Regions from separate parts of the Homo sapiens genome. Here region 2 is linked to region 1. Evidence: fine-mapped expression QTL. Tissue or cell type: whole blood. Region 1 holds a variant in brackets; the other region holds the start of a gene. All regions are shown on one strand. Distances are between the middles of the regions.

Region 1 (2,679 bases):
GATGATGCATGCCTATAGTCCCAGCTACTTGAGAGGCTGAGGCAGGAGGATCACTTGAGCCCTGGAGGTTGAGGCTGCAGTGACCTATGATCACGCCACTGCACTCCATCCTGTACGACAGAGTGAGACCCTGCCTTAAAAAAAAAACAGGCCGGGCACGGTGGCTCACGCCTGTAATCCCAGCACTTTGGGAGGCTGAGGCAGGTGCATCACCTGAGGTCAGGAGTTCAGGACCAGCCTGACCAACATGGTGAAATCCCGTCTCTACCAAAAAAAAAAAAAATTAGCCAGGCTTGGTGGCACATGCCTGTAATCCCAGCCTTGGGAGGCTGAGGCAGGAGAATCACTTGAACCTGGGAAGCAGAGATTGCAGTGAACTGACACTGTGCCATTGCACTCCAGCCTGGGCAATAAGAGCAAAACTCTGTCTCAAAAAAATAAAAAAAATAAAAAATCCAGGCCATTAAAGTCACAACCCCAGATGTCTAACCTCTTGTGGCTTCTAGAACGCTGGATGCCAGGCTATGAGAAAAGCCTTCCAGATGCTGCCAATGTTTCGGGATTCCTGCCCAGTGACCCCCACCCCCACCCGCCAACCACCCCACAGTGAGGCCGCCCTGTGGTGAGGAGGCTTCCGTCAGCTCTGTAGCACTCCATCATAATTGTTAGTCAACAGAGAGACCAAAACCCACAAAGAGAAAAGAAAAGTAACCTGAAGGAGAGACAAAGAGGGCAGAAGAAAACAGTTCTAGAAAAATCCTTATGTTCCTGATTCAAACACAGAACAGAAAAAAACAAAACCTGTATGCATCTTATCCTCGGAGAGCTCATAGAGGATATAACAGCCAGGAAACAAGTATAAGTTTGCCTTTATTTATTTACTTATTTATTTATTATTTATTTTTATTTTTTATTTTTTGAGATGGAGTCTCCCTCTGTCACCCAGGCTGGAGTACAGTGATGTGTTCTTGGCTCACTGCAAACTTCACCTCCCAGGTTCAAGCGATTCTCCTCCTTTAGCCTCCCAAGTAGCTGGGATTATAGGCATGAGCCACCATGCCCGGCTAATTTTTGTATATTTAGTAGAGATGGGGTTTCACCATGTTGGCCAGCCTGGTCTCGAACTCCTGACCTCTGGTGACCCATCAGCCTCAGACTCCTAAAGTGCTGGGATTACAGGTGTGAGCCACTGCACTGGGCCAAGAAATTCTTTTATTTATTTACATATTATTTGGAGATTGGGGTCTCACTATGTTGCCCAGGCTGGTCTCAAACTCCTGAGCTCCGTGAGCCACCACACACAGCCAAGTTTGTCCTTTAAAGAGGAACGGTAAAAGAACCAGAAAGAGCTCTTGGAAATTAAAACTCTGACAGTCACTGGGTGTGGTGGTGCATGCCTGTAATCCCAACACTCCAGGAGGCTGAGGCAGGCAGATTGTTTGAGCTCAGGAGTTTGAAACCAGCCTGGGAAACATAGT[G/A]AGACTAAAAATCAAAAAAATTAGCCAGCATGGTGGCAGGCACCTGTAGTCCCAGCTACTTGGGAGGCTGAGGCAGGAGGATCACTTGAGCCCAGGAGGTCGAGGCTGCAGTGGGCTGTGATTGCACCACTGCACTCCAGCCTGAGCAACAGAGTGAGACCCTGTCTCAAAAAAAAAAAAAAATTAATAGTCAAAATTAAAATGTCAATAGAAGGGTTGGAAGAAAAAGTAGAAAGTGGGGGGGTGGGGGGGAAGGTAGGCAAGAAAATGAAAACATCAATCCAAGAAGTCCACCCTATGACAATAACGTGTTCCACAAACACGCCAGAGAAACCAAAGTGGAAGAAATCACCAATGATATCATTCAAGAAAGTTTGCCAGGAAGAGAACACAGGAAAGAGCCCACCAAGTACTCAGCACAATGGTTGAAAACAGACCCACACCAAACCCACCACTGTGAAAGTGCAGGATGTAGGGAACAAGAAGATTCTACAAGCTTCCAGAAAGAGAGAGAGAGAGACAGAAATTAACCATGGGACAGGCAAAGTATGAGGAAACAGGACAACTTCTGATCATTCAGCTGCCCAAGACTAGAAGCTGGAAAACATTGGGCAAAAGAAAAGTATCCACCTACAATACTGTCAGCCAAACCTCTAATTACCCAGGAGAGTAGGAGGAAAACACTTTCTCTGGAAACCCTAGGGGGAGCACATTCCTAAAACAAGGGACCAAACCAAGAAACAGGGAGACCCACACCCAAGAAACAGGAGCTATATCTAAGAATCCCCTTGTGCCGAAGAAGAGAGGGGCCAGGATCACAGCTGGGCAGTAGGAGAAAGTCCTGAGTGGAGATGTCAGTTCTGGTGGAGAGGCTGGGGGAAAGAGTCACAGACACATAAAACCAAGGCGATGACTAACTCCAGGGAAATAAAAAAGCAGGTCCCAGAAAATAATGTTCTTAGTATACATTGCTCCACTGTCAATAATATTTATATTAATATATATACTATAAGCACTGAATTTTCATTTAAGCAAAAATTGTGATTTAACTGTTGGGGGAGCAGAATGCCTAAGAGAGCTAAATCTTGACCTTCTGGAATAGGAAGTCAATGGACAACATCCAACTGATAAATCAAGGGATGTGTAAAACACATTACTTGGAACTATGGAGGTAAATACCTGAAAACAGCAACAGCAACCC
Region 2 (2,679 bases), 89 kb after region 1:
GAGAGAGACTTGAGATGCAATCGGACACTTGGCTCACGAGGAAGCTCCCTTGGTCTTCCCATTTGGGAGCAAATGACCCAGAAAAACACTTTTGCTGCCGACCCCTCCCCTCTCTGGCTCTGAGCGCTCCTTCCTCCTTCCCCTCTGCCCCATCCCACAGAGATTTTGCTCGGAGGAGTAAAGATTAGAAAAAGAAGTCTGGGCGCAGTGGCTTGCGCCTGTAATCCCAGCACTTTGGGAGGCCGAGGGGGTTGGATCACCTGAGGTCAGGAGTTCGAGACCAGCCTGGCCAACATGGTGAAACCCCATCTCTACTAAAAATACAAAAATTAGCTGGGCATAGTGGTGGGCGCTTGTAATCCCAGCTACTCGGGAGGCAGAGGTGGAGGCAGAGGTTGCAGTGAGCCAAGATCGCACCACTGCACTCCAGCCTGGGCAACAAGAGCAAAACTCCGTCTCAAAAAAAAAATTAGCAAAAGAAAGGCCACCCCAATCCCTCCCTGCAAAGCTCCTGGAGGTTCCAGCGGTGAGAACAGGGTGAGGGGTTGGGGGGCGGGAGACGCAGTTGTTTCAAAACTTGGGAGCCTTTTAAGAAGTTCCAGGAGGCTCAGAGATGAGTGAGGTCGCAGCCTTTCCCACCTGTCACCTCCTAGCCTCGGGCTGCAGGAGGTAAACCCAGGCTCCGTCTGGACTGATATCCCCTCCCCTCCTCAGTTAGGGGGATCAGAGACCAACCTGTGCCCCTTTGCCGCCTCCCCGGTCCCTGCGCCACCTAGGTAACAATGACCCTTTTAAGTTTCCAGCTCAGCGTCCTGGGCAGGCCGCCAGGTGCAGTAACTGCCGGTCAGATAATCCCTACGAAACTATGTCAGATGCCCACGCAGGAGTGTCAGTTTCCTGCTTTCCGAGGAGCCGGGGAGACAGCTCGTGGTGGGGGAGGTTGGGGGGGAGTCTAAGGACCCTCAGCTGGGGAAGGCCAGCTCAGACAATGCACACTGGGTGGAAAAGCACAGTGGGGCGGGGGACTTACCTGTCTAGGAGGCTGGGTGGCCTCTGGGCAGGCAGCAGGTGCCAGGGCCCGGGTGCCTGCCTGGCACGGGTGGTGGGGAGGGAACCCGAGGCTTGTAGCTCTGGCCTCCCCACCTGTTTGACCAACTTTTCCTCTCTTGTGGTGGCAACAGGGAGGCAGGTCCCCTGCCAGTGGAACTGACGACCACAGACACAGGGAGACGGACCAGGGTGAGGGGCGGGCCAGCAGGAGGACTGGGTGTGTGGCTCTGTCGCAAGGTGCCCTCACGTGGGAGCAACTGGCCTTAACCCCTGCTTGCCCAGAGGTGAGCTTGCTCCTGCCTGTGCCCTCACCGCCGAGGCCCTGGTATCAAGCGTCCGCACATGGTAGGTGCTTAGGAAACCCTCGTTGGCTACATTCAGACATGAATGGACCGCACTCCCGGAGTCCCCCTCCCTCCTGCTTCTTGCATCTGGAGCTGCCCAGTCTCTGTGCTTGCTGAGCCTCCTGCCAGGCACGCCGGCCCATCAGGCTGTGGCTTGGCGCACTCCCTTCCCCACGCAGATCTGTGCGCAGTCTGCCTCTCTGCTACGAAGTGACTGGGTTCCTACGTACAGAAGCTTCTGCCACTTCCCCGCTGTGTGGCTTTGGGCAAATTACAGGGGCTTCTTGCTGTCCTCATCTAAAAAACAAGAAAGGGTCAGGTGTGGTGGCTCACACCTGTAATTCCAGCACTTTGGGAGGCCGAGGTGGGAGGATCACTTGAGCCTGGGAATTTGAGACCAGCCTGGGTAACACGGTGAAACCCATCTCTAGAAAAATTTTTATATATCTTTTGTTTGTTGTTTGTTTTGAGATGGAGTCTCCCTCTGTCACCCAGGCTGGAGTGCAGTGGCGCGATCTCGGCTCACTGCAACCTCCGCCTCCTGGGTTCAAGTGATTCTTCTGCCTCAGCCTCCCAAGTAGCTGGGATTACAGGCGTGCACCACCACGCCCAGCTAATTTTTTTTTTTTTTTTCAGTAGAGACGGGGTTTTCCTATGTTGGCCAGGCTGGTCTCAAACTCCTGACCTCAAGTGATCTGCCCGCCTCGGCCTCCCAAAGTGTTGGGATTACAGGCGTGAGCCACCGAGCCTGGCCTAGAAAAGTTTTTTTGTTGTTGCTGCTGGCTGTTGTTGGTTTTGTTTTGTTTTTTGTTTTTATTTTATTTTTTTTTTATTTTTTTGAGACAGAGTCTTGCTATGTTGCCCAGGCTGGAGTGCAATGGCTTGATCTCGGCCCACTGCAACCTTTGCCTCCCGGTTTCAAGTGATTCTCCTGCCTCAGCCTCCCGAGTAGCTGGGATTGCATTACAGGCACCAGCCATCATGCCCAGCTAATTTTTGTATTTTTGTAGAGACGGAGTTTCACCATATTGGCCAAGCTGGTCTTGAACTCCTGGCCTCAGGTGATCCGCCTGCCTTGGCCTCTCAAAGTGCTGAGATTACAGGCGTGAGCCACCACGCCCAGCCCAGAAAACTTTTTTAAAAATTAGCCAGATGTGGTGGTACACACCTGTAGTCCCAGAAACTCAGGAGGCTGAGGTGGGAGGATCAATTGACCCTGGGAGGTTGAGGCTGCAGAGAGCTATGACTGTGCCACTGCACTCCAACCTGGGTGACAGAGCAAGAT

Evidence for each region. PIP is the estimated chance that this variant, and not a neighbour inherited with it, causes the effect.
Region 2: TJP3 starts here. The variant in region 1 is fine-mapped to the expression of TJP3 in whole blood (INTERVAL, PIP above 0.99).

The regions. Positions count from the first base shown.
Region 1 is chr19:3,796,282-3,798,960 of GRCh38, reverse strand. It overlaps a transcript of MATK not described here. Among named protein-coding and RNA genes, the nearest start is that of MATK, 11 kb to the right of the region's middle. The variant G/A (reference allele first, on the strand shown) is at 1,479.
Region 2 is chr19:3,706,913-3,709,591 of GRCh38, reverse strand. TJP3 (tight junction protein 3) reads right to left here and starts at 1,208. Exons shown (of 21, transcript NM_001267560.2): 1 at 1,031-1,208. RefSeq lists enhancers at 438-1,099, 1,100-1,763.